5 linked regions of the Homo sapiens genome follow. The protein of the gene in region 5 purifies or fractionates together with the protein of the main gene of each other region. This does not show direct contact. Each region holds a gene or a part of one and is shown on either strand. Other genes may lie near its edges.

Evidence for each region.
Region 1: the proteins of TSPAN18 (region 5) and HS6ST2 purify together in Homo sapiens (affinity purification with mass spectrometry; one large-scale study listed by BioGRID and IntAct). This does not show direct contact.
Region 2: the proteins of TSPAN18 (region 5) and ZDHHC13 purify together in Homo sapiens (affinity purification with mass spectrometry; one large-scale study listed by BioGRID and IntAct). This does not show direct contact.
Region 3: the proteins of TSPAN18 (region 5) and TMEM181 purify together in Homo sapiens (affinity purification with mass spectrometry; one large-scale study listed by BioGRID and IntAct). This does not show direct contact.
Region 4: the proteins of TSPAN18 (region 5) and SCARB1 purify together in Homo sapiens (affinity purification with mass spectrometry; one large-scale study listed by BioGRID and IntAct). This does not show direct contact.

What each region holds. Positions count from the first base shown.
Region 1 is NC_000023.11:132,951,100-132,957,072, forward strand, and holds part of HS6ST2 (heparan-sulfate 6-O-sulfotransferase 2), read right to left. Parts: coding exon 5,709-5,973; intron 1-5,708. UniProt on the Homo sapiens protein: 6-O-sulfation enzyme which catalyzes the transfer of sulfate from 3'-phosphoadenosine 5'-phosphosulfate (PAPS) to position 6 of the N-sulfoglucosamine residue (GlcNS) of heparan sulfate.
Region 2 is NC_000011.10:19,145,808-19,151,780, reverse strand, and holds part of ZDHHC13 (palmitoyltransferase ZDHHC13), read right to left. Parts: intron 5,601-5,973; coding exon 5,478-5,600; intron 4,186-5,477; coding exon 4,108-4,185; intron 2,595-4,107; coding exon 2,450-2,594; intron 1,055-2,449; coding exon 990-1,054; intron 1-989. UniProt on the Homo sapiens protein: Palmitoyltransferase that could catalyze the addition of palmitate onto various protein substrates. Palmitoyltransferase for HTT and GAD2. May play a role in Mg(2+) transport.
Region 3 is NC_000006.12:158,631,450-158,636,761, reverse strand, and holds the end of TMEM181 (transmembrane protein 181), read right to left. Parts: exon of another isoform or gene 5,276-5,312; intron 4,953-5,275; coding exon 4,874-4,952; 3' UTR 1,333-4,873; downstream 1-1,332.
Region 4 is NC_000012.12:124,803,409-124,809,381, forward strand, and holds part of SCARB1 (scavenger receptor class B member 1), read right to left. Parts: intron 4,520-5,973; coding exon 4,353-4,519; intron 1-4,352. UniProt on the Homo sapiens protein: Receptor for different ligands such as phospholipids, cholesterol ester, lipoproteins, phosphatidylserine and apoptotic cells. Receptor for HDL, mediating selective uptake of cholesteryl ether and HDL-dependent cholesterol efflux.
Region 5 is NC_000011.10:44,903,442-44,909,414, forward strand, and holds part of TSPAN18 (tetraspanin-18), read left to right. Parts: exon of another isoform or gene 1-218; intron 219-338; exon of another isoform or gene 339-398; intron 399-2,965; coding exon of another isoform or gene 2,966-2,975; coding exon 2,976-3,038; intron 3,039-5,973. UniProt on the Homo sapiens protein: Plays a role in the cell surface localization of ORAI1 and may participate in the regulation of Ca(2+) signaling and the VWF release in response to inflammatory stimuli.

The sequences.
Region 1 (5,973 bases), on a different chromosome or scaffold from region 5:
CAGATCCCCTTCTCAACCTCTCTGTTTTGGTGGCTGGTACCACCTACATTCCAGACTAGATATCAGGGAGATAGCTTTACCTAGACTCCGACCTTTATTTACTTTCATGGTGTTTTTGCACTCTTTCCATCCAAGAGCTTCTCATACTTACTGGGGTTCCTCATTGCCATTCAAGTCCTCCACAGTGGAGCCTAACCCCATCTACTTCCCTAACCATTATTACTCCAAGCATGAACCTTTCGGGTCTGGCCAGACCTGCCTAGGTGAGGTTGCTGGACCTCAAAAGGTCATGAGGACTCCGTGCCCACCCACAATGCCTCCTTTCTTCTTAATACAACTCTCCTACTCCCAGAGGCCTTCTCAAAAGGATGTCTCCTTTTTCTGGCCTGTTCCTCATACTTTAGAAAGGAAAGGGCCCTGGAAAGCATGTCATTTAAATCTCCAATTTTATAGATAAGACACTGAGACCAAGGGAAGGAAAAGGGCCTGTCCAAAATCTAAATTTCCTCTCCCAGCACCTGTCTACATGACATAGTCCTGCACTTCACATGCTAATCTTTATGGACTTGAGGCTGAAGATGGTTATCTTGGCTTTTTTGGTTTCTTCTTGGCTCTAATCTCCCCACAACTGCTAGCACCATGCCAGAGACATAATAGTTACTCCATCTGCTTTGCCGATTAGACCCAAACTACAACATAACAGATGGACTTTTGTCTATTTTTTGTATATTCTGGTAAATGTATGACATTTTAAAGACATTATTGATTTTCAAATTGTTTTCAAACAAAATCCATTTTTTAATTAAATATCTAAAGTACTAAATTGTTCTGTTCTACCATAAGCTCTGTGAGACAGAGAATGATGTCTCTTCCCTGGAATATAATGAACAGTTTCACAAAATCTTGCTTAATGAATGACAGAAAAAAACGGATGGCTATTCTTTTAATGTCATTACATACTACCTCAGTTGATGACTGATATCCATGAAAGACAAGCTCTAGCATTTTAATTGCCCCATAGCACTGATCTAAAATTATTATTAAGTGATGTTAATTCTGAATAGCCTTTTGTACTACCTGAGAACTTACAGCTTTGTAAGGACTCCAACACCATGTTCGACATCCATGCAAAGATGCTAATTAATACTACTGGAATTCTACAGATATTGTAATGGTAGATTTCTCCCCCTCTTCTATGAAATAGCTAAGATGGTACCACAGCTCTCAAAGACAGCTGAAGAAATGTATCCTCAGCTAAGTAAAACTGAGCCCAACAGCTTAGAGCCTGATGAACCACACGACCAGTACTGACCACTGGCTGTAACAGTCCATTCTGCTTAATGCCTCAGCCTATATCACAAGCCTGTTGTGTCATTTTGCCTCACTGCAAAATCAAGGAGAAGAAAGAGGGAAAGCGTGGGCTTGTGAGGCATGATCAGGTACACACACTCTATAGTTACAGCTCTTTCAAAATAGAGCCACCTTTTAAAAACAAATGGGAATAAAAGAAAGCTTTTCCCACAATTAAAAAAAAATAGAATGACCAAAAAAAGCTTTTCTCCATCTAAACAAACACTTTTTAGTCCTTTCCCATCAATGATATGCTACTGGATTTGAGATGATAATTAATTACTCTTCCAGATGCCTCAGCCTGCTCCCATCCTGCTCAGCTTTGCAGGGATTCCCAATATGGCAATGAAAGGCCCCTCTGCAATCTAGCCACAAGACCTACCCCTGGTGAATAAAACACCTCAGGGATGTAGAAATCTGTTCTTCTCCCAATGGGTGTGGTACCCCCGGCCCAATCACTCATCCAAACTGAAAATTTTAGAGATGCTAAAAGTCTAGGGTACAACATGAATATGATCAGATTCTTTGACTTGTATAGCCATGGACCCTGACCTCTCAACCCCATTCTGTGCATGCTGGCCAGCATGATACTTAGTGATGAAGAAGGGGGCTAGTGCTATTTCTTTGGGCCCAGTTCTGAATTCCCTCTACAGAACAAATGGCACACTAGAGTTGGCTACAAACAGAGGAAATTTGGCCTAAGAAAAGCCTGCAGAATTTGGGACTTTTAACAGCTTGTGAGCAACAATGTTTGGATACACTTTCAAAAATGGTCTCAGAAATTCTAAAATGAGCAGGACCCTGAGTGACTGCAAACAACATACTGGCAGACAGATGGATGAAATCCAATTTCTGATTTTTTTTAAAGAAATATTATTCTTAATAAACAACTTGAGCCTTTCACCAGCCAAGCTCTCTCTCTCTCTCTCTCTTTGTCCTCTCCAGGCAACGTGATCACGGTTGTTTCTATTCAGCAGTTATATATCACCCAAGCACTTAACCATCCGCGGAGGCAGAGAAGCATCCCAAATGTAGCACTGGAAGCAGGATTCAGAGTCTTGGCTTGCAGCCACAATAGCCTCTGATACCTCCCTAATGTGGATGAATGGCTGTGAGTCAGTAGGTGGTTCCTGTCGCAGCTGAAGGCTCCTACTGAAGCTCATCCAACCAGGCCTCAGCCCGCTCCCATCCTGCTCAGCTTTGCAGGGATTCCCAACATGGCAATGAAAGACCCCTCTGCAATCTAGCCACAAAACCTATCCCCAGTGAATAGAAAGCCTTAGGGATGTAGAAATCCGTTCTTCTCCCAATGGGTGTGGTAATCCTGGCCCAAAAACTCATCCAAACTCACATGTTGTAAAATGACTGACGATGATAATGATGTAGGTGATAACAACAACAGCCAACATTTATTGTGTTCATTCACTTTGTGGGAATGACTAACTCAAGACCTCACTGTGGTTTTGCAAAAAACCCTTGTTCATCAAGGTGCAGTCAACAGAGCAAGGGTTGTGGAGTCAGACAGAAGTGCAGTCAGATTCCTGCTGTGCCGCTAAAAAAACTCAGTGACCCCGGGGAAGCCCTTTAGCCTTTTTGGGCTTCATTCTCATCTGATAAATGGGGATCCTTTTGTCCACTCTGGCCTCTTGCTGAAGATGGTGCAGGTTTACAGAGGAATACCAGAGATAAGGGATATGAACGCTTATCATAAACTGGAGTGCACTCTCTACACAGGATCTGGTCGAGGGTCACATGGCTGGTTAGTGGCTGGCCTAGAACTAAGGCCCAGCTGTCTGAACTCCCAGGCCAGAAAGGTGGAACTGTTGTTCCCCTCAGTTGAGAGGAGCACAGAGACCACCAGCTGGCATGGAGAGGCTGTTTGACACAGGAACTCCCAAAAGCAGACTCTCCCATTTCCAGACACCAGCTTCTCACCCCCACATTTCACCATCGGTGCAGCTGCCTTTACCTCTAAATTTTTGCCTCGCACAGACACATACAACAGTCACATACACACACTCTCTCATTCTCACACACACATGCACACCTTAGCTCTTACAGATTATCAGAACTCACAGAACTGGTCCTGCAACCTCCTAGGGGATCTGTCAACATCCAGAGAAATTCTGGAACCCCTAGGCTATCCCTATTCTTCAAAGTGAATATTTCTGGAGGTGGGCAGGAATGAATGAAATAAAAAGGTGCCCTTGAGGTAGCAATGCATTTCTCTAGCAAGTTTTATTTCATTTTTGCAAACACCGTAAAATCCAGTAACTGTGACTTTTTAGAACATGGTTGCTCTTTGATTAGACTAGATGCTACTGTAGTATCACCCTTTTAATAACCAAGAAAATCCTATGTCATTTCAAATAATTTTGCTTCAATTTGGGACAATCCAAGAGGCTTTGAGGGGTTCTGGTTATCTTCTGGAGAATGCGGGAAGGAATCTGCCAGAGGACAGTAGCCACCAAACAGATAATCTAGACCACATTAATAATGTGTGTTTATAGACATCATACTCTGACCTACATGTTCAAAAGGATCAGTAAAGGCACATGTGCCCCATGGAACTCCAGACAAGGCCATGGCTTTCATGGTGACCAAGACCTTGTTTTCACTTCTCTGCTATAGTCATGGCTGTGGAATTCTACTTTTGCCCAGAAGAGCTTTTTAAATATTACCACCTCTCAATACACCTACAAGGTCTGTCAGTATGAGAAATTCTTTTCAATATTGCCAAATTGTTTGGGAACTTATTAAACACCAGAATATTGTTGTGACAATGACTTACACAATTGTACCAATGGATTGAGGTCCTGGGGCTAAGGTTTTCTTGGGGTGGAAGAAAAAATTTGTTAGTATTGGAAAGGAAATACAAGTTTGGCAGATTCTGACACAATTCCAGCATTTGAGAAAGGACAGTGTAAACTGAGAGAAGAGAGAGTGAAGAGGAGAGCCAGGGGGTGATGTTCCCCTTAAATCTCAATGGTAATCTGAAAGTCAGAGGGCTCTAGGGCTCTATTTGCTGCAGTTGGACAGAAAAATCCACACTGGTTGTTGCGTTCTAACAGTCACCTGCAAAGCATCCCCTTGTCCAGGGTACCAAGTGCACCCGGGGGATGGGGATGGGACACAGACATGTCCTTGCCGGCCCAGAGACCCCATCCAGAGGCCTCCAGGCCATGAAACTCACCTTGTGCACCCCCTGGACTCCCTGCTTCAGCCCAGATTTGTTTTAAGGAGACTTGCGAAACAGTAGCCCTGGCTGGACTAACTGCACCCCATAGCACTCACTTCCCCCACCCCACCACCACCCACTTTACAGTACTGCATGACCTCTAGCAACTGGACATCGCGTCTGGAGGGAGGAAAATACCCTTGCTTCTGGCTACAGACTATTAATAAATCAGCTTTTACCGCATCAGCCCAGGCTCACAGAACATGGGCTGGCAGCGCCCCATGCTGGGGCTCAAGCTTTTTAAATATTTTTTGTAAATCAGGAGAGGCTCCTGGTGACTGAACCCCACATGGGGTCCAGGGCACCATCCCAGCCCGCCCTTCGGTCCGCGGGGTGCCCCCCGCCACTCCCAAAGAGCCACGGATGCCTCTCATGCAGCCAGTAGTGATAAGCAAGCCTGGGAACCATGAGCTCTCCTTGGATGTCGGAAAATAGCGACAGAGGGACACCCAGTCGCCCGGGAAGACCAGAGCCAGAGCGGGGAAGGAGCGAGGTGATAAAAGTCCGGCAAGAAGAGAAAAACAGAAAGGGTAAGAGAGAAAAAGAATAAAAGCGAGAGAGGGGAATGGAAAGAAGGAAACAGCGAGCAAACAGGAGCAGACAACATCTAGGACACAAGAGAGAAAGAGGGAGAACAAGGCAAATAGACGAAATAGGGGGGAAAGCGGGGGGAGGGAAGAATGCGGGCGCCGAAAGGAGGAAGAGAGCGCTGAAAGGAGACTTCGGAACCCGGGTGCAGAGTAGAAGAAAGCAGGGATCCAGAGACGCTGCACGGAGAGCGCGGCTCTTTAGGGCTCTCCAGTGCGGAGACTGAGTACGATGCCCCGTCCCAGCGGCCCCGTTCCGGCCGCTCGGCCGCCTCCCCCGCACGCTCTGCCAACCATCACGCAGGCCACCCTGCGGACAGACAGACGGTCAGTCCGGGGCCGGAGCGGAAAGCCTTTCTGTGGCCGCCACAGCGCGGCGAACGTGCGCTACTGGGCGCCCAGCACCTGCCCAGCCGGGGTGCAAACGCCCGGGCGTCAGGGTGCGCGCTAGGTCCCCGGCTTGGGCCAGCCGCGCCTCCCAGCCCTCCGCCCGCCTAGGCCCGGGTCCCGCTCGACTACCGGCGCGCACTCACCTGGACGGTCTCAGCCTGGCGTCGCGCTTGCCGTCCACCACGGAGGGCACACAGCTGGTGAGCTCGGTCCAGTCGGCGTGCAACCCGCAGCTCCAGCCCGTGGAGAACCTGGAGAAGAGCCAGGTTTCCCGCTTACCCGGCCGGTGGCAAGTGCATTTCTTCTGACCCACGCGGCACTCGCACGGCTGCTCCAGCTGGATGTTACGCACCAAGTGGCGGCCGAAAGTGGTGCCCCCGGTCTTCTGGATGTGCAGGAACACGATCA
Region 2 (5,973 bases), about 26 Mb from region 5:
TGAGGAGCTAACTTCATACTCTCCATCAAATCAACTGTTAAATAAAGCAGGTATAAATTATGCCCTAAAATATTTGTATATCTTAGAAAGTTACGGACTAGAAGACAGAATTCAGTAAAATATTTTTACTTTACCAATACCTTTCCTTCCTTCATGACCACTGAAGAGATTCTTTTAATAAAACAATATTCTACTTTATTTATTCTATCAATATCTTTATAGAGATTATACCTGACTTCAGATTTACCAGCACAGAAGAGAAAATGCTTTTTAATAAAATTCTACCTCCAGTCCTACCATTCCATGAACAAAAAGGAAATAGCATTAGAACTAACACAGTTCCTAGAAGTCCTAAGTACAAGCAAAATCAGAGATTCAATACAACATAGAAACAAACTGCTAAAGTGAGAACTGTCGTAAGTATCTGCCTAGATAAATACCAGAAGTTGAACTATACAGTGGTCATTAATCATGTGTTTATAGAAATAAATACACAGAAAAACTTGAATATGTAAGTGCCTGATCTGAACATACAGACTCTTTTCAGTTAATGATATTTTCAAAGTAGTCAAGAATGATGTCAGAGAATCTCAAAATTTAATATTTTCCAGAAAGCAGATTTATCACTTAGATTTCAAATTATGAGAACATTTAAAATTATAGCCATTTTTTTAAAGCCAAAGGAAGAAATACAAGTCATGTTAACAAGTATATTTCAAGGTATATCTACTTGATAGGTAAGGAAATTTTTTTCTTATTAGTAGCTTTCAAACTTTTTGCCAAAGCTATCAGAAAAGAGAAAATGTATTTCAAGGCTGCTTTTCTAACTATAACTACCTTAAAAGTCAATTATCACAGTCTCTGTGTGAAAAATCTTATTTTCTTCAATGTACTATCATCTCACATAGACACAGATACTTAAAATTACATACACAGAAAAGAAATAGTTGGAACCAAGAATGAGATTGAGTGGACTAAATTAAACTCACCCAATTACTTTGTGAGCTGATAACATGAGAGGTGTCTGCCCATTTACATCTGTCATATTCACACTCTATTCAAAAAGAAGACAATTAGCATAACTGTAAATACACTCAAAAGTCTATTTGTTCTCTTAATAGAAATATCTCTTTAATACATTCAATACTACCATTATTTCTACATAAAGGGCTCAAATATCATTTGATAAAAAGAATGTTTTGCTCACTTCCATAGGGTAAAAATCCATGGATTTCCACAGAATATTTTTAAAAAGAAAATCTGAATATATAATGTAAAGTGTTATATGATGTGAACACAGTTAAGGGAAAGAGTAAAATGTTGATAGCTACCATCAAATACAAGAGATGGTAGAGACCTTAAAAGTCACCTAGTTGAGACCTTAGTTGACACATTAATTCGCATTATCATTTCTTATACAAAGTCATTCAGTACCTACTCAAACACTTCCAGTAAATAGTGAACTCCCTATCTTCTGAGGCAACTTGTCTTTCTGGACTTATCATATTAAGTTTTAAATAGTAAAATATGAAAATTTCCTTTCTATTTTCTGGAACACAGAAAAAAAAAGGAAATCATATTTCCATGAGGATACAGTCCTTTTAATAAGACAGGTCTAGGTTTAAGGTATACAGCAATGGTTTCAGCTAAGCCAAAGAAAAACAGTTTCAGCTTCTGAAGATTCTTATGGGCCTTGGAGGAACAGGACTTGGGAAGGCACCCAAAGAGAAGCAGACAGGACTCTTCCTCATATATTTATATTTTTCCAACAATGAAACCTAGGAGGTTATAATTCTACTTCAATCAGCTAAGTCTGAGAGAAAGTGCTTATTTAAAGGGAGCACAATCATTCCAACAGCATTTGTGCAAACACGTTTTCATGCCTTTTACAGGCAAGTCTGCTAATACATAAACTACTTTGCTACCAGAAAACATATTCCAGGCAAGTATAATTGACAGTGAAACTTACAATAACCTATAATTTAACCTGTGCCTCTCAAGGCAAGTCAATTTTCATGGAATTACTTTAGAGAACAATAAGAAACATATATTCAAATTGGCCTCCCATTTGGGCTCAAATAATGAAAGCAAATGATGGGTTAATTTAGTGATTTGACTACCATTTTTATATTCAACTAGAAGAAAAATACAGGCTTTGAAGTCATGTTTTTGAGAAACTCTGCAAATTACTGGGTTCATAAGAAAAACTATTACCAGCTTACAAGTTTCAGAAACATCTATTATACGTTACTGAGCTAAATGACCTGTCCTTTTCCCTCCAATGAAGCTGAAAAGCAGTATTCAATGGCTAAACGTACTGAGGCTAATATCTGAATATCTGGATATCCATTAACCTCCACTTTAAAAATGAGAAGAGACTACTACTAATAATTTCCCCAACCTCTTCAGATGATAAAAACTGGAGTATAAGACACATTTCAGAACATACCTGTCCCTTTGAGATGAGATATGCTATAATAGGCATGTGTTGAAACAATACTGCCAGGTGGATGCTGCTGAATCCCTCTCCATCAATAAGAGTGGGGTCTGCACCATGCTGGAGTAATAATATGACCATAGGTAAATGTCCTTGTCTGCAAATAGAAGACAAAAAGCCATTCTGTAGCATGCAGAAAAAGCAAAAAGTCAGGGAGAGACTGATATTCCTAAGACATGAGGGATTTTGGTTACATATAAAAAATATTTCCTAACAGTAAGATTTTTGAAACAATGGTGATTGTCCAAACGTTTTTAACTTAGATGCTGCAAACTTAGAACTATATGGATAATCATTCTCGTTTTTTTTTGTTTTTTGTTTTTTGTTTTTGAGATGGAGTCTCGCTCTGTGACCCAGGCTGGAGTGCAGTGGCACGATCTCAGCTCACTGCAACATCTGCCTCCCAGGTTCAAGCGGTTCTCCTGCCTCAGCGGGGACTACAGGCGCATGCCACCATGCCCACCTAATTTTTTGTATTTTTAGTAGAGATGGGGTTTCATTGTGTTAGCCAGGATGGTCTCGATCTCCTGACCTCATGATCTGCCTGCCTGGGCCTCCCAAAGTGCTGGGATTACAGGCATGAGCCACTGCACCCGGCCTGGATAATCATTCTTGAGTGCAAGTGATAAACTTGATAACTTCCCAATCTACCCTAAACCTGACCTTCACACATTACCATACGTGAATAATAATTCTTTATGACATGGTAACAATGAAGATTCTAAGACCACTTAGATGTCACTGTCATTTTAAAATCAAAAAATCATAAGCCAGATATACAGAAATATAATATTCATAAACTATGGGTTTACTGTGATAATATTAAGAGCTATATATTCATATGCTTTTCTTATGCTTGACTATGGTTCATTTTTCATGTAAAGTACTGTACCTCAGTAGCTTAAAGGGCATGAAGTAACCCTAGAGTTTCAAAACTCTTAGCTATGGAGAAAAGATTCAACTCCTTGACTTACATGAACAATTATTCACTTCAGTTTCAGATTCCTGTCAACCCCACCAACCACCGAGAGTGGAGTTTAAATTAATAAAAGAAACTGATAAGTATTCAAGACTTACTAACTTCAGTTTCAGATGGCCAATATACAACAGAGAAAAAAGGAGAGTGACCACACAATATAAATGTTCTAAGTTGATATACTCAAAATTTCTTGTTAATCCTGCAACAACTTTTAAAAGAGTTGACTCAATTGGCCCTAAGATATAGAGATATACTTCACATTTAAGAGGAAACTCACCTCTGAAATAAAATCGTAAATTTCTAAATAGACATCTGTCATAAGCCTGAACTGAATGAGTTTGCACTTCACTGAACTACTATTTTTATTTATGTTACCAAGTATGAAAATTATTTATTCTAATTACAAAAAAGAAACTATAAAACACATATTTGAGTTGGATAATCATAATGAAGCCCTAAATTAAATATCGAAAACATCCTTTCTGCAAACTCTTTAAAGCTGAAATTTATTTTTAAATAAAGGGGGGGGGGGAAGAAAAGACAGCCTTTCAAATCGTCTATAACTGATTTTTTATATGGTGACCACTAGCTATATGTGGCTATTTAATTTCAGTGTTCAAAGAAACCTTACCGGATGGCCCAGTGAAGAGGAGTTGAATTTAAATCTCCACCCAACTGATCTACAACAGCACCTTTTGAAATATAAAACCTGTTAAAAGCAGACACAAATGAAAGTAAGATTTGAAACTTAAGCTTCATATTGAGAAAGAAAATACTAATTTTTTCATAGTAATAAATATGTTGGAGAACAAATTATGATAGTAATAATCCCTAAAACACCCAGATCTATAGAAATATGAAAGGTTCACATGGCAGAATCAGACAAATCCCTGATGAAACATCCTTAGGATGTAAGTAATTAGTCCTGCTGTAATTAGCATTCCATTATAACTTACATATCAAATACATCATAACTACTCTCTGCATAGTCTAACTACCGCAGCACTCTTGAAATTGTTTATATTCAAAAGGTTTAGGATCAGACAGATATTCTTACTTGACTGGAAGGAGAAAGGTAAAGTTATGTCACCTTCAACAGTTTAAAAGTAGAATTACTATGTGGGAATGAATTTTAAAAGTAAGTAGTAAAGAATTAATTTAAAATCCTTTTGGAAAAGTTAGACATTTTGAGTGTTTTGCCCTGTATTTAGGGTACGGAGATGAGAGGCACTGTATAAGGTGGACATATAAGGTAATAAGACTGATTTTCTTCTATGGTTTATAGGAATTAGTCTCATTACTTCAAAGTTGAGCTTCATACATCATATTATCTAAATACCATGCCAGTTTATTTCCACAGAAGAGGAGTTTGCCTGTGAGTATTCATGTGTGTTAGAACATTTTAAACCTTAATAAATTTCTTAAACTTTGAGGATTTTAAATATCTAATCCTATAACACAAAATATATACACATTCACATACACATGTACATTTTACATGTTAAGCTGTTTAAAAGAAACAATGGGTAGGCAGTAGTGCTTTATGAAGGGGAAATATTTTATACAATCCAATACATGCCCACTTAAAAGTATATTCCATATTTAGTTTTTTTAAAAGGTTAAATCTCCTACCTATCTATTCTTCGTGGTATTAAAATGTAAAATATTTCAATGCTTCTTCTAAACTAGATGAGACTTCCCATTCTCTTCTGAAAAAGTTTATTATACTTTTCCTTTTTTAAAAAATGTTCACTTTTACTTTCTAAACTTTATGATTGGCCCCCTTGGCTTTATCTCTAATTTTCCCTTTTGGATCAACCAGGCATGGTCTCTAAGGTCCCTTTCAACTTTATAATAACCAACGTGTGTGGCAGAAAAAGTTTCGGGTGTTCTTTTACACGAGGATTACACATGGTTCAATACCCATACTTAAAGAAAAAGATAAATGAAGGAGAGGTCTAAAATTATAAATACACAATTAACACACATATCCCATCTTACTTTACAAGATCCAGTCTGTTGTTAATAGCAGCCCAATGAAGAAGCGACACATTTTCTTTATCTGGTTGCCTGACATCATATCCTGCTTCTACCAACTCTTTACATCGTTCAAAAATTCCGTATCTCAAAGAAGAAAAAAAAAAGCATAATTGATACAATTAAAATCATTTCAAATATCAAAATTTCTTCACTTTACTATATCTTTTCACTATCCAAACTGCCTTTCAGTCAATACAGAAATATAATAATTAACAAAGACATGCATAGAGAGGACACAGTATAAAGCCAAACAGCAAAAGGAAACCTGGTTTATGTACTGATCAGATTAATCTCTTTGGAGTTGAACTTGACTTTCTTAAGTAAACTTTAAACTTACATTGCCTTCCTTCAATAAGTTTCATCTGATCTCCACTATGTGCCAGAAACACCTGGTGCCAATTCCTGACAATAATCTTACCCCTGAATCAAACCAAGCCCATGCAATAATCTCACAATA
Region 3 (5,312 bases), on a different chromosome or scaffold from region 5:
ATTCAGTGAACTCTTTTCTCATTCTCTTTGTTTTGTGGCACTTTCACAATGTAGAGGAAAAAACCAAATGACCGCACTGTGATGTGAATGGCACCGAAGTCAGATGAGTATCCCTGTAGGTCACCTGCAGCCTGCGTTGCCACTTGTCTTAACTCTGAATATTTCATTTCAAAGGTGCTAAAATCTGAAATCTGCTAGTGTGAAACTTGCTCTACTCTCTGAAATGATTCAAATACACTAATTTTCCATACTTTATACTTTTGTTAGAATAAATTATTCAAATCTAAAGTCTGTTGTGTTCTTCATAGTCTGCATAGTATCATAAACGATTTCTTCATAGTGAGTGGCTACAGAATCTATACAACCAGACCAGGCGCAGTGGCTCACACCTGTAATCCCACCACTTTGGGAGGCTGAGGCAGGCGGATCATGAGGTCAGGAGATCAAGACCATCCTGTCTAACACGGTGAAACCCCGTCTCTACTAAAAATACCAAAAATTAGCCAGGTGTGGTGGCGGGCGCCTGTAGTCCCAGCTACTCGGGAGGCTGAGGCAGGAGAGTGGCATGAACCCAGGAGGCAGAGGTTGTAGTGAGCCAAGATCGTGAGCCAAGTTCCCGCCACTGCACTCCAGCCTGGGTGACAAGAGCAAGAGTCCGCCTCAAAAAAAAAAAAAAAAAAAAAAAAAAAAAATATATATATATATATATACAACCAAAAAAAAAAAAGTTCTGCTGTGGTCCTCTCCATGATGTACTCATTTTACCCGTGGGACCAGGATCCTGACGGCTCTGCTGGGTTCTGGTTAGATTCCTACCCCTCGGCATCACACCTCCCATTCTTAAGCCCTCCTCTTCTAGAGGTGAAGGGGTGGGAGGTGGGCAAACCAATTTCTATTCTCTTAGCCAGAGAGCTCTAACTCACACTTGGCCCAAAGCTGTAACACCTTAACTGTTAATCCTGTGTTCTCTGTAGGGCTCACAAATTGTCTTAGTACTTCAGAGCTTACAAAATGGTTTTCACAATCATTCATTCTGTGTCTTCAACAATTTGCAGTCATTTAAAAATCTCAGAAAATGTGTTTGGAGGTTATCTGATTGGTTTAAAGTCACACATCCAAGTTGGGAGCTGGGCCCAAACCCACGCCTTGTCTCCATCTTGAGTGCTCTTCCCCAGGCCACATTAGACATGGCAATAAAGATACCTCCGTGCCTGCCTGCTGAAATGGAAAAGCCCTGCCGTTGTCTCCAAAGCCGCTTTATTAAAGCATTTATGTCTGCAAGGCCAAATTAACTCCACACACAAAGAGCAAACAAATCAAGACACATAGAAGTGAATATTAAAAATTTATTAACATTTCCCAGAAAGGTAGTGTCAGAATTAAGCCATTCGCAAAAGACGAATTTGCCATAAACAAACATTCACTTTTGCCTGATGACAGCAACACTGTGATGGGGTGGCACTGTGCCCCACGGACAGGTCCACAACTGAACACATGGCTCTATCTCTCCTTTTGGGCTTAAAGTTTAGTGTTATTTTATTTTACAAATATTTACAGTCATTTTGTAAAAAGGCAGTTTTTAGTAGCAGAAAATTCTTCTGTTTTATAGTATGGTATCACAGTTACTAGCGTATCTCCAATGTCAAACCAAGATAAACAGCATCACAAGATGTCACAGACTAATACAACTTCCCTTTGGCCAGGGGAAAAGATCTGTATCTTTTTTTTTTTTTCTTCAAAAGTCTAACCTCTAAGGCAACCGGTTTCTAAAACCCTCAAAATACACAAATACACTTTCATGTTTTAAGTCTCATCTTCACTAAATGTTCAGACACATCCGTTTTAATTATCCCTTTTATGAGGGTCTGTGTTTTTCCTGTGATAAAGGATTCAGGAAATAATTTACCACATTATAATCTATTTAACATAACTACCCTCAGTAAATAGTTCATAAAATACTTGAGGCTGGTGACATTTGTCTTGTAACCTGCTCATTTAGTGGGTTGGGTTTACAAAATGTATCTAAGCTTTTATTGCAATCTGCAATTATGTACATTAACAACCTTACAAACCTTGAACATAGTATATATATCCCCTTCTCTAGCCTTTCAAATGGGGCTTAAGAGAGAGAAAATGGCACCACTTCACTGCTATAATGATTTAATAATAAATCAAGCAGACTTATCATCCACATGGATAACGAAGCTCTCCCTAGGGAAACTGAAATACCTCTGGTCATCTTCCAGGTTCTCCTAGACTGGACCAGTATTTAAAAAATCCCAAAGATGATGTTACTCAAGCCATTACCATGAAGGAACTAAAGTCAGCCCTTTAAGTTCGCAAAACTTTAACATAACTACCCTCAGTAAATAATTTATTTTTTCTTCAACAATTTTCTTGCTACTGTCAAAAGTTTCTGGCAGACTTTAGTGTTTTAACCTGATACCTATGGTACATATTCTACATGCCAAGTGCTAGAGAGTTTAAGCAAAATTTTACATGGGGTATGTAATATGTCGGTATTTATGATATACCAGGGAAGACAAGTTGAAAATACATGACTTAGTAAGAACGATTTTCCCCTTAAGTACTTTCTAACTTTTTTTCTTATTTCCCACTTAGTTACAAAAAGTAAATAAATAATCCTATATTTTTCATTTCATTGATGCATGAAGACTCAATGTATGAAGATAATAGTCATCAGTTTATAATTACACTATAGGACAAAGTTTTAAAAAGTTCTAGTGTGTGTATGGCTAAATGCCTCAAATATTTTACATTTACTGATAAATAACAGCATTCCAAAATCATGGACAATTATGATTAAAAGTTGTAAACCATATCACAGAATATGTTAATCAGCACATCTTCATCAGTTTACATAAAGTTATAGTAGTCTTATTAGAAGTTGTAAAATTTGGTAACAGAAAATTTTTTTCAATACACAGAATAAAAAAAACATCATTGCAAATTTAAAAATCATGTAAACTTGAATTACCCTTGCAGTAAGTTGTCTTAAACATTCATATTTACAAGGTTTTTAAAACAAATGTGAATAGAATCCATATTAAAAGTACATTATCATTAAAGTTTAAATTAAAAGGAAAGATACAAAGGAAAGTCATAACAAATAGTTTCTCATGAACATCTCTAAGGTCCTACCTAGCACTACTTAACGTGGATGATAACGTGAAGCTCTGCATGGTAATCTGAGAGTCAATGCATAGATGAAGAAAAAAAGTAGGTACTGCTTGCGTTGCGGAACTATCATCTTCTGGACCTCAATTGCCAAGACGGCATCAGTCAGGTTGCCCACAGTTACCAGATGTTAACAGAAGTGTGACTGTAGAGGTCAAGAGGAAAGCACGGGAGACGTCCACATGAGACTCTATATGGAGTCCCTGACTGAAAGGAACGGGGAAGCTCCAGGGCCTTCTATGATGCCACAGATTCAGCAGTGCCAAGGACTTTACAGAACAGGTCGTCCCTACCTGACCGCCATGTGGACACATGGAGGACAGGGAACCCCTTCCGGAAGCACGAGTTGCCTTCTACCCAAATACGTTTTCCATGAACCATTTAAAACATTTTACTTGCTTTTCATTTTGCTTCCAAATATGAGTTTTAAAAACTTTTGGCCAATAAATAATCTAAAATATTCTATCAATCTTTCATGTAGCTTTATTTATTTATGACACGGGTTCTCGCTCTGACACCCAGGCTGGAGTGCAGTGGTGCAATCATGGCTCACTGCAGCCTTGACCTCCAGGGCTCAAGCAATCCTCCCACCTCAGCCTCCTGAGTAGCTGGGACTATGGGCATGCCCCAGCATGCCCAGCCAACTTTCTAAATGTTTTATAGAGACGGGGTCTCCCTGTGTTGCCCAGGCTGGTCTCAAACTCCTGGGCTCAAGTGATCCTCCCACCTTGGCCTCCCAAAGTGTTGAGATTACAGATGTGAGCCACTGCACCTGGCCCCTCATTTAGCTTTTACTTACATAAATAAATAAAGCTCTATGGCATTTCATATTCAACAGAATTGCAGAAACTGCTATTTACTGGAATGGTAAGGGTTCCTCTCCTGCCCATACCTCCCACAGGCAAATCCATTTAATCATGTGTGTACACACAGGCCCCTGAAAAGCACCATGGCAGTAAGACCTTCCCCACATGAGTTGGTAACCTGTAAATTATCTTAGCCTTTCCTTATTCAACTTATCAAACCCTCCTCAGAACTCCACACTATTACTTCCCCTTTGGTGACGTGAAGGGTTGGAACCCCAGCATCTCCCATTCCCGATGAGTCATAACTCACACACTGCACAAAACGCAGTCCACATAACTGACCAATCACTTCAGCCACCTGGTTACCCAGGGCACTGGCCACTCAACGAGGAAGGACTGCCCTGAAGCAGCCACAGATAAGGCTTCCCTTTGAGTTTAAAGGGTCACAAAACAGTACCATGGAAAAGGGAAGAAAGAGGGTGATGCTGTCACGCTGAGGACCTAGTCACAGGCTGCCCGTGAACTTGGAATCAGTGAATGATTACAGGAAAAAAAAGTACATAATTCACTGTACTAAAAACGTGAAATTTCCTCATCACTGAAAACACGCTCATCTGAAATCTCTGTAAAAAAGGATTTGGCTGTTGAAACTTGTTATCAATGCCTCTTCTCGTAGCCACCATGACAATAAATTTGGCTAAACATTTAAATTTACCCTCAGTTTTGGTTTTCCTTTAAAAAAATATGTAAACAAATGAACAGGAAATCTCTGCTTGTAAGAAAAATCTGAATATAACAGGGGAAGGTCAGCAGACGGTCACCGGGGAAAGCATCCAGGCATCTTGTCGCCTCGCTGGGCTGGCCGGGGCTCAGTCACTATCTGACTCCTCCTTGTACTTGGCCCGGATGGCCTGGCCGTTCTGCAGCGGCATTTCCTCATAGTCACTCCTGTGAGCAAAGAGACCTTTGAGACCGTCTAACTTCTGACAGCTCTTTATTTTCCTCTTCCACACTGACACACCATTCCAGCAGGAATTAAATCATAGCTTCGCTCTTTCAATTTTCTATCACCAACTGCTACTGCTCACCCCGTCCTCCTCTCCCTGACCCCCAGTTCCCAGGGCCCATCAGTCCAGAAAGCACAGTTCTTCCCGTGGCCAGCACGCCCTACAGGTAGCCAGCAGAAAGGACTACTACCACATCTAAGCCTGAATACTGTGAAAACAGAAAACCACGAGCCACTTGACACTCCAAGGTAAATGCCTTCATACCTTGAAAATAATTTTAGAAGAGTAACCCATTCAGAAA
Region 4 (5,973 bases), on a different chromosome or scaffold from region 5:
AAAAATTTAAGAATTAGCTGGGCATGGTAGCAACCGCTTGTAGTCCCAGCTACTCAGGAGGCTGGGGTAAGAGGATCAATTGAGTGATGGAGGTCAGACTGCTGTGAGCCATGATGGCACCACTGCACTCCAGCCTGGGCGACAGTGATACCCTGTCTCAAAAAACAAAGCAAAAAACCCCAAAAACTGCATGAGTCATCTGGGAACTTCTTTGTATCTATGTATATTTTATTTAGAAGCAAAAACTAAGCCCGGGCAAGACGGCACAACCCCACCTCTACAAAAAAAAAAAAAAAAAAAAAAAAAATTGAAATAAGATAAAATAAATTAGCCAGGTATGGTGGTGTGTACCTGTGCTCCCAGCTACCTGGGAGGCTGAGGTGGGAGAATCATTTGTGCCCAGGAGGTCAAGGCTGCTGTGAGCTGTGATTGCACCACTGCACTTGAGCCTGGGCAACAGAGAAACCCTGTCTCAAAAATATAAATAAATATAAGAAAAAACTCTATTTAAATAAAGATTTTAAAATTCCTTTGCGCTTTTGAAATTCTTTTGGCAGATGTGCTAAGAGAAGGCGGGACACACCTCGTCCCACGCCCTTGGAGGGGATGGGCATGTCGTTTCTCCCCCTTCTCCTGGTACCTACACCCCCACTTTAAGCCTTCCCTACTTTCAGCCTTGTGCTTGGAGTGGGGCCGGCCCACCCAGGAGCCATCTGAGCATGTGACACAAGCCTGGCCAATCAGCATAGTCCACCTCGGCTACTGTGATTGGTTTACAGCTGGGCATGGGAGCCAGGCAGACCAATTAGAGCAAACCCTGGAACTTCTGCTGGAGTGAAGGAAACACAGGTGGCCCCCTTTCTGCAGGACTCGGAGCTGGGCGGAGGTGAGCCTGGAGCCTCCACAGGCAGCCAGGAGGGAGAGCCTGCTTGGCAGCAAAGCCAGTCCAGCAGAAAACTGAGCTGGGACTTGGCAGAGGCAGCTTCCAGACAACATCTAAGTTCTGGATTTGTGCCTAATGCAGAGATCTGCCCTGGAATTTTTCATTACGCAAACCAAGAAGTGCCCTTTTGGCCTAAATCAGGTGGAGTCCAGCATCTGCCACTTGCGACAGTTGCTGTAGCACACCTATTGGGTGTGTAACATCCTCAACCTTAGGAGCAGAAATCCCCGCCGATACCAGCAAAGAATGAAGCAAGCAGAGGCCAATGCCCAGACGGGCCAGACAGGACCAGGAGACAGCAGCGGGCGTCCCAGGCCCCAGCTCCAAACCATTCATTCACAGGTTGTTCCATTCTGCCTGAAATAGGGGAAAGCATCCAATCTGTTGACAGCCCCTCCTCCTGACCCCTGTTGCAGACCAGTCCTTTAGAGTCGCCATTGCCAGCTGGAGGACGGGGCTTCAACCAAAAAGGCTCCCAGAAGGCAAGACACAGTCAAATAGAGGGCCGCTTCCGGTCCTACCAACCCTGTGACCTTGGTCGCATCCAGCATCAGGCCTCAATTTCCTAAGTACAGAACGCACTCACCATCCCTATATTCAAATACTGTATGAGTACCCATTACATGCGGGGCACAGTTCTAGAAGCTAAGAATAAAACCAACAAGAGGAGCTTGGGGCCCTGCCTACAGGGATGACAGTGAATGGAAGGGGCAATGAATAAAATCCACAGTCCATGAGTTCAGGGAGCAATGAGCACCAAGACAAGAAGAGGAAGACAAGAAGACCAAGACAAGAAGACAAGAAGAGGAAGCCATAGGGAGCAGCAGGTGGGAGAGGGGGCAACTTTAGAACAGGAAATCAGAGGAGGCCTCCCGGAGGAGGTGGCATTTGCATGCAGGCCAAAAGAAGGTGAGGGATGATCCACTCAGAAATCCAGACAAAGAGCTCTCCAAGCAGGGGAAGCAACCCATGCAAACCACAGTGCAAGGCACTGACCTTGGTATACTTTAGAAAAAGGGCGAAGGCATCAGGGCTGGAGAATAATGAACAGGGGACGTGTAGGGAGAAATGGAGTCAGAGAGGCTGGTGGGGCTGGATCCTTCAGAGAGGCCGGTAGGGGCTGGATCCTGCAGGGCCCAGGGCCATGGTGGGAGTTTGGACTTCACTATGAATGCAGACAGAGCTGCCAGACATTTTAAGAGGACGGCGGCCATCTGCATATTTTTCGAGATGGGTCTTCCTCTGTTGCCCAGGCTGGAGTGCAGTGGGGTGATCACAGCTCACTGCAGCCTTGACCTCTGGGCTTAGGCCATCCTTCCACCCCAGCTTTCCACGTAGCTAGGACTACAGGCATGCACCACCATGCCTAGCTAATTTTTTTTTTTTTTTTTTTTTTTTGGCCAGAGAGAGGTCTTGCTATATTGCCCAGGCTGGTCTCGAACTCTTGGCCTGAAGTGATCCTCCCACCTCGGCCTCCTACAGGGTTGTGATTACAGGCGTGAACCACCACACTCGGCCTGCATTGTTAAAAGATCCCTCCGCTGCTGTCGGGAGTGCTACAGAACTTCCTATGATGATGGAAATGTTCTCTATCTGTGCTATCCAAGACAGTAGCTGCTAGACACACATGGCTTATGAGCATTTAACTTCCGGCCGGTGCAACCAAGGAACTGCCTTTTAATTTGATTTCGTTTAAATCAATTTCAATTTAAACAGCCGCAAGAGGCCAGCAGTGACCGCACTGGATGGTCTAGGGGATGGATGGTAAGGCGGCAACACTGCATTGAGGGATGGGCTACTGAAAGGGCTGGATCACCAGGAAGGACGTGTCCGTGGCCTGGACAATGAGGCGGGGGTTGGGGTGGGGAGCAAGAGAGAGGAAGGAGTGAGGACTCAACCTGGAGGTAAAGCCATCTGGGCTTGTTGACGCACTGGAAGAGCTGGGTGAGGACAGGGAAACAAACTGACGCCCGAGGGTCCAAACTGAGCAACTTGAGGTGGGGGTGTCTCAGGGACTGGCACACAATTGAGACACACCAACAATGTCAGGGGACCGACGCCAACAGCAGTCATCACATCTGCCTAGCCACCCACACTGCGGAACGAGAAGATGTTACGTAACACACAGACCCTCGCCAGCCTCATTTCATGTCATTTAGGACACGTACATGCCCTAAGCCCCAGAACCCATGACTATGTCAGGTCACAGGGTAAACGGGCGCTGGGCCTGCTCAGCAGCTGCCTTGAAGGTCCAGAAATTGGGCCGGGCACAGTGGCTCACACCTGTAATCCCATTGCTTTAACACGCAGAGGCAGGTGGATCACTTGAGGCCAGGTGTTTGAGACCAGCCTGGGCAACATGGTGAAACAACATCTCTATAAAAACTTTACAAAAATAAAATTAGCTAGGTATCATGGCCCACACCTGCGGTCCCAGCTACTCAGGAGGCTGAGGCAGGAAGATCGCTTGAGCCCATGAGGTCGAGGCTGCAGTGAGCTATAATCGCACCACTATACTCCAGCTCCAGGCTACAGAGTGATACCTTGTCTCAAAATATAAAAATAGGCTGGGCGCGGTGGCTCACACCTATAATCCCAGCACTTTGGGAGGCCGAGGCAGGCAGATCACTTGAGGTCAGGAGTTCAAGACCAGCCTGGGCAACATGGTGAAACCCCCATCTCTACCAAAAATACAAAAAATTAGCCAGGTGTGGTGGTGCACGCCTGTGGTCCCAACTACTCGGGAGGCTGAGGTGGGAGGATCACTTGAACCTGGGAGGCGGAGGTTGCAGTGAGCTGAAATGGCGCCACTGCACTCCAACCTGGGTAACAGAGTGAGAGTCTGTCTCAAAAAAAATAATAATAAACAAGATGGGGAGATTGTCCTGGGGTATCCAGGAGAGCACGATGTGGTCTTAAGGGTCCTTAGAACTGGAAGAGGGGGCAGAAGAGGGAGGAGAGGAAGAGATATGAGGACAGAGTGGATCAGAAGGATGCCATGTTGCTGGCCTCAAAGGTGGAGGAAGGGCCCGGGAGCCAAGAAACACAGAGGGGCCTCTGGAAGCCAGAAAAGGCAGACGCAGCTTCTCCTAGAGCCTCCAGAAGGAACACAGCCGCCTTGTTCTGAGCGCGGTGAGACCCACGCAGACTTCTGACTACAGAACTGCAAGATAACCAGTGTGTGTTGTTCTAAGCCCTGAAGTTCATGGCAATATATTGTGACAGCAACTAATAGACCTGGCATTTCTTCCTTTTCAGATTATCTTCCTGCGGCCTCATTATCTTCGCCTAATGGGATTATCAAGAGTACAGAGGCCAGAGATTAAGCAGACAGCACTGGGCAGATAAACCCTCAGCTGGCCCCACCCTCACACCCTCCCGCCATCCCAGCACAGGGGACGGCACGTACTGAACCTGCAGGTGCTGACGTTCTGAATTCCAGACTCCAGGCACGGGCAGAAGCCTTCGTTGGGTGGGTAGATGGACCCGTTGGCAAACAGGGTTTTGGGAGCCACGAAGCGATAGGTGGGGATGCCTTCAAACACCCCTGACTCCTTGTACATTAGCTTCATGGATCTGCAGGGGACAGACAGGATGAGAGGGGACACCCAGACCCGGCGGCCAGAGCCAGGCCCTGCCAAAGGCTGCCCAGATCCAGCCACTTCTCCCCACGGGCGCTACCACCTCCCGGGTCCAAACCGCCCCCATCTCTCACCCGCGGAGCTGCAGCGACCTCCTAACAGGCCTCTCCGCTCCGACTCTGCCTCCCCACCCACATCAATGTATTAGCCGTGGCCAGATGGAGTTTTACAAAAGAACAGAGGCCAGGCATTATGGCTCACACCTGTAATCCCAGCACTTTGGGAGGCCGAGGTGGGAGGATCACTTGAGCCCAGGAGTGTGAGACCAGCCTGGGGAACATAGTGAGACCCAGTCTCTAAAAATAAAATTGTTTTTGAAAGTTATGAAATTAAAAAAAGAACAGAATATATCATGCCCCTGCTGAAAATCTGTGACCCTTTCTAGTCTAACCTACCATTAGGATTCATTGACCTTATCTAGCCCCTGCATAAGCTCTGCTCAGCCCTGCCCCAACTTCCTGTGCCCAGGGCCTCCCTGCAGTTCCTAAGCACACTCACTCCTGCCCCAGGCCCTTTGCATCACTGCTCCCTCTGCCTAAGAACAGTCTCCTCTGGCATCTTCATCCACCAGACTTCAGCCCTTCAGTCAGATCTCAGTTCAGCTGTCACTTCCTCGGGTGGCAGCACCGTCCCCCACACCCACCCCATCCACCCTCCATCCATTCATGCTCCTGTACTTTCTCAAAAGCACTTCTGAACTTGAACATGCACTGTGCTACCCACTCTGTCCACGGCAGCCACTCAGCACGCATGGCTGTCCATCCCGCCCTTGACATGGGGTGAGTCCAAATTGGGATGCAAGTATAAAATACATTCCAGATTTCTAATACTTGCTAGCAAAAAAAACAAAAAAAAAACCTCATCAATAACACTTGAAATGATCCCATTTTTGATATATGAGGTCAAATAAAATACATTATTAAAAATAATTTCACCAATTTCTTGTTACTTGTATTAATGCAGCCACTAAAAAATTTTAAATTGCATGTGTGCCTTGCATATTTTGATTTATAGGAAAGTGCCAGCTTAGATAACAGTATTATGTCAATGCCAAATTTTCTCATTTTGATAACAGCATTATGGTTATGTAAGAAAATGTCCTCGTTTCTGAAAAACACCCACTGAGTATTTGGAGGTAAGGGGGCATACAGCCTCCAACCTACTCTCCGATGGTTCTGGAAAAAGACACTCGGCGAGAAGAGGGGGTGGGGGGCTTAACACGGCTAGTGAACCTGGGTGAAGGGGAGACGGGGGCCACTTGTATTTCTCATGCAACTTTTCTTTAAGTTTAAAATTCAGCTTTTAAAGTCAGCTGGGTACAGTAGCTCACACCTGCAATCCCAGCACTTTGGGAGGCTGAAGCAGGAAGATCCCTTGAGGCTAGGAGTT
Region 5 (5,973 bases):
GTGGTCTGTAGGAGGCAGCTTGGTCTCCTGTAGAGGTTGGGTTCCAGCAAGAGAGGGCTGTGGTGACATGTGCTTTCTGGAAAGCTCCTTCTGGCAGCAGGGAAGCACTGGATTGAAGGGGAGGTAGGGAGGCCAGTCCCAGCCCAGAGGCTGCAGCCATGTCTGGATGAGAGAGAAGGCCAGGAGCAGGGCTGAGGCTGGAGATGTTTCAGAGACCCCTGTGATAGAGAGGATGATGTCATCCGATTTTACCTCCAAAGGCAGATGGCATGTCTTGAATTCAGGCCATGCTCACTGAAGTAAAGACAAATCCGCCCCCCACCCCATCACACACACACCATCCTTTGTCCTTCCAAGCTGGATTGCCTGGGTTCCAATCTTGGCTTCACCACTCACTAGCTGTGACCTCAGACAAGTCACCTCGCCTCTGTCTGACTCAGTTTCCACCTCTGGAAAATAAGGATAATAAGAGTATTAATCTCATGGGTTGTTATGAGTTAGTAAATGTAAAGTATCAGGACGGAGCTGGCACATAGTAAATGCTCAATAAATAGTATTATTTGTAGGGGTGGAGACTTGGGTGGATGATCTCAGGAAAACCCTGATTTCCCATTACCCCAACACAATTTAAGAGAAACCCTTGGGGCACTGTTGGAAGGACAAAGGCTTGGAGCCTGGAGTCCCTGGGTCAGGTTCACCCCATGATTTTTTCCCTTGCATTCCTCACCAGGTAACTTGGTGCCTCAGTTTCCCCTTCCTAGTAAGAGAAGAAGGAGGATGTCCCAGGTGGGCTCTGAGTGTCTTCCCCTCCTGACTTTGATGCTGAGTGGCCCCGCCTGTGCCTCCCCTGCTCAGCATTTTTCCAAGTTGCAATAGGGACCAGTAGAGCAGCAAGGAGGAGGTGTCCCTTTAGGGAGGAAAGCCCTCCGGCCCCAGGGCCAGTGCCAAATCCAAAGCCGATGTGCCTGTCAGACCTTCCTCTTGGGCTCCAGGCACCTTAGCCATGTCTGCCTGGCCAAGCTCAGCTGGTGGACAGACATCTGGCACCTTGGCAGAAACAACGAGAGGAGGGACGCAAGGCACCACCCCTGAGACCAGGAACCTTTCCTGTGTCGACTCCCCACCAGCTGGCTCTGTCTGTGCTCCTCTCTCCATGGATTCAAATGCACTTAAAAACAAACAAACAAACAAACAAAAACACCTCTAGCTCAGACCAAAATGCAGCCTGGAGTGGTGCTGTCATCACTGATTAGGAGAGGGGTGGAGTGGCCCAGCAGGTGAGAGGCAGGCACCGCTCTGCTCCATCTGTTCCTTATGATACGAGGGTGCTGGTCTGGCTGCTGAGGAGAGTGTTGGATTGTGGTTTTGGGCGAGGGCGAGGAGGGGACAGAGTTGCTGAGGCCTATTATGTGCCATGGGCCTTGTCAGTGCTTCCTACAAGCTGTGTGGCCTTGGACAAATCCCTTAACCCTTCTGAGGGCTGGGCTGATGGAAGGATGTGTGGTCATCAGAGTACATACCTCCTTGGTGGTTACAAGGATTAAACGAGATAATATGCGCAAAACCCTGGGCACAGTGCTGGATCCCCAAACAGTGGCTACGATTATTACTGTTTTCCTGACTTCATTTTAAATTGATGAATAATAATTGTATATGTTTATGGAGTCCAATGTGATGCTTTGATACACATTTTACTATTATTAATATTAATAATAAGCCTCCCAGAAACCCTTTGAGTCAGACTTAGCAACCTTATTTTGTGGAAGAAGAAGATAGAGTACAGCCATGTCCTGTGGGAGGAAGCGGGAGCTGCAGAAAGTAATCAGACACCATCTCCCCTACATCCATCCACACCCCAACACATATTCCCAGAACCCTTTGCACTGAGTCCTGTCATGGAGGTACAAACCCCCTGCTGGAAGCACCTGCAGTGCCGGCAGCTCAGGACTGGCTTGAGTTCTGGCCCTTCCCCTTACTAGCTGTGGGACATCGGACATGTCGTTTTCATTCTGAGTCTCGGTTTCCCCACCTGTCTCATGGATCTCTAATCCCTGCCCTGAGTCTCTCCTCAGAGCCGTTATGAAGAAAATGTGAAAATAACGAATATGGAATGTAAACATGTCTTGTGCACCTTGAGGTCTGACTCATGAGAGCAGATGCTGTCAGTTTCCCCTGGGGGATGGGGGACATTTGCATCTCAGTGCAGCCCCGGCTGTGCCTGGCAAGCAGCGGATGCTCAATCAATGTTGGCTGAATGGAATTGTGTTCAATGACTTGCTGCCATGGGTATACTTTTAGGTGAAGACAGGAAGGGCTCCCAGGGAGGTGGGATGCTAGAGGTCTCAGAGTAGAGGTAGCCAAGGCTCAGGGAGGCTTTGGCCCCAGAAGCAGGTTTTAGATCCCCAGGTAGGCTGCTCTCCTTTTCCCTGCAACACCCCATCTCGCTGGCACCAAGCAACCGCCCTGGTCTGTTCTGTGGCTGGAGGGTGTGTGGGTTGGTGGGAAGTTTGTCAGGCCTGGCTTCTGGTCCAGGCTCTGGGCCTTGGTTTTCTCATCTATGAAATGGCCAGCTCACACCTGCAGTAGAGCAACAACGTGAAGCGGGACTGCTGAGCACTTACCACGTGCCCGACGATGTGCTAAGCATGTTACTGTGGGATTTCAGTTCATCTTCACAACACTGCTAGGAGGAAGGTTCTGTTCCTAATCTCCGCTTTAAAGTCAGAGAGAGCAAGACTCAGAGAGGTAGAGTAATTTGCCCAAGGTCACATAGCGAATGAAAGCTAGAGCCAAGGCTGAAACCCAGGCAGGCTGGCTCCAGCATGCTCATCTCTATCATCGGCCTCCATCTTCTTCCAGCCTTTGCAAGGGTGGGGCTGGCTGCGGGGAACCCCTGGGGAGGGGCTGGGGTTCTTCCTGGGTGGGGTCCCCCATCGGGAAGACTGAGGTGGCCTTGTATTTCTAGGTGGAGCACCATGGAAGGCGACTGTCTGAGCTGCATGAAGTATCTGATGTTTGTATTCAATTTCTTCATATTTGTAAGTATTCCTGGGTCTTCCCAGGCCTCTGCTGGGTGGGCAGAACTGGCTGCTGCTTTGAAATAGTCACACTGGGCTGAGTCCCTGGGGCGAGCACAGGGGCCGGCGCTAGAGGCAGGGGTACCTGCCAGCCAGGCTTTCATGGAAGGGGGCCCCCAGCAGTGCCCACCCCACTCTGAAGAGCCCACCTTCTTAGGAGAGACATTTTACACAGGCCCTGGGGTGGGTCAGCCCCTCTCAAAAAGGTGGAGGGGACCTAGGTCCGGCCACTGTCTTGGGATCTGACCCCTCGTGGAGAGTGGGAAAGGAGGGGATGGGGGTGATCAGAGGGCAGCAAGAGGGAGCCCCACCCAACCTTATCTCCCTGAGCAGTTGACGGACTTCAGACCTGGAGGGGCCGAGTCCATGTAGCCACCGGATATAATCAGAAACCTCTCTGGGAATGCAAGACCTGCATTCAAATTCCAGTGCTGCATCTTAGCAGCTTGTGATTTGAGACACATTTCACCTCTCTGAACCTCAGTATCTTCATCTCTTAATGACCTTCCTCAACAGGCTTTTTGAAAATTAAGCAAGATTAGTTTACAAAGTACCCTGGATGTGGGCAGTCCTCAATAGCTTAGCTCCATTTCCATCTAGCCTATGGATTCTGTATATGAAGGGACAGCCCCGGACATTCAGGTGGCCGGCCCACCTGCTGGCGGCCCACCCACATGCTGAGCCCACCCACCTGCTGGTGACCCACTGAAGGCTCTGCTCAGACTCATGGCCCCTCCCAGGAGTAGAGCTGTGGCCCTGGATTCTTGGGCCCCCACAGGCTTTCCTGGTCCAGCCTCAGGCTTTGATCTTAGTACAGCCAAGACCTGGGTGAATAAACCTCCACTCATGTCCTTCAGGGCAGGCTCTTGAAAGAGGGGTCCTCTTTCTGGCCAGGACTGACCGTCTGTCTCTCTCAGTGTCTATCTTTCCCTCTCTATCTCTACCTCTATATCTTTGTGTCTTTTTAAAAAATATACACTTCAGCAACTCTCTTAGCTTCTCTTCCCTGCCTTATAATCCTAAAAAGCCTCAAGCCTTGCAGACTTGAATTCTAGACCCAAGGTCACCACCTTCCAAGCCGGGTGACCCTGAGCCAGCTCATCCTTCCTCCAGCCCCAGTGTTCCCACCCGAAATGGAGCTGGGCCCTCCTTGAAGTGTTTAGCATGCAGTTGCTGAATCCCCAAATCTCCAACAGCAATAAGGAGGCACAGATTTTCCTGGAGGTTGTGCGGGAGACCAACGAGAGAGACACAGGCTGGGTGCAGTGGCTCACATCTGTAATCCCAGCACTTTGGGAGGCAGAGGCGGGTGGATCACCTGAGGTCAGGAGTTCGAGACCAACCTGGCCAACATGTTGAAACCCCATCTCTACTAAAAATACAAAAAGTAGCCATGCGTGGTAGCGGGTGCCTGTAATCCCAGCTACTCGGGAGGCTGAGGCAGGAGAATCGTTTGTACCTGCGAGGCAGAGGTTGTGGTGAGCCGAGATCGTGCCACTGCACTCCAGCCTGGGCAACAGAGTGAAACTCCGTCTCAGAAAAAAAAAAAAAAGGAGAGAGACACTGCACAGCAGATGGCAAAAATGGAAACCCTGTCGCTGGCCATGCCTGTTAAGTCTTTCCTTCTCTTTCCCCTGCTGGGTCCTTCAGGCCTCTCCACTGGACTCCTGCCCTAAGGTCGCCTACAAATGCCCCTTGCCCAAAGCCATCAGCTCTCTTCAGCTTGCAGTCCTGCTCAGCCAAGCCAAAGCCCAGCAGTTTTCCTGTCGCCCAGCTGTCAACCCTCACACAGGCCTCTTGGGCCTCCGGTCCTCCCACCACACAAAGGGATTTCAAATACTTTACAGCCCGCAAATCCCATGGTGCCAAACTTTGGTTCTTCCCACAACAGATCTGCTTCTAATACTTATCTGTGCCCAAGAAAAATGGAATAGGCTGGGCGCAGTGGCTCACACCTGTAATCCCAACATTTTGGGAGGCCAAGGCAGGAGGATCACTTGAGCCCAGGAGTTTGAGACCAGCCTGGGCAACATGGCAAAATTCAGTCTCTATAGAAAAATACAAAAATTAGCCGGGTGTAGTGGCATGTGCCTGTAGTCCCAGTTACTTGGGAGGCTGAGGTAGAGGATGACTTGGGCCCAGGAGGTCAAGGCTGCAGTGAGATGTGATCCCGCCACTGCACTCCAGCCTGGGTAGCAGAGCAAGACTGTCTCAAAAAAGAAAGAAAGAGAGAGAGAGAGAGAGAGAAAGGAGAAAGAAAGAAAGAAAGAAAGAAAGAAAGAAAGAAAGAAAGAAAGAAAGAAAGAAAGAAAAAGAAAAATGGAGCAGATATTTATTGAAATCTGCTAAACGCCTTCTATCCTTTCTTCCTTAGGGCTGCCTTAGGATGAAGGTGTTTGAGTCTTCTTTTGACCACAAGGAAGCTAAAAGGCTCAGACAGATTTTGACACTTGCCTAGGGTCACACAACTAATAAGTGGCACAGCTCTCTCTCTAGACTACGCTGCCTCTTTCCAAAGATAAATAAGGCATAGAGAGCCCATGTTGATGGAGACATAAATAAGAAATCTTTTGAGCTATGGATTTGAGAGTGGGGAGCCCACTCTCAAGTTGGAACCTCACTGAGAGTCCCATGGGGGACAATGACGATGACTTGGTCTGTGTCTTCCCAGCCCCTAGCATGGGTGGTGCAAACACAGCATAGGGCTGACTCAGAGCATGTTCATGGACCTTTGTTTAGGGTGTTGAGGCTGGAGTCAGGGGGCCTGCGACCAAACTCTGACTCTGCCATGAACTTGCTGTGTGACCTTCAGCAAGTTGTTGGTTCCCTCTGTATGGAATCAGAGGGTTGGACTAGATGACCTCCTAATCCTACAGGTCTGACATTTCAAGAGAAG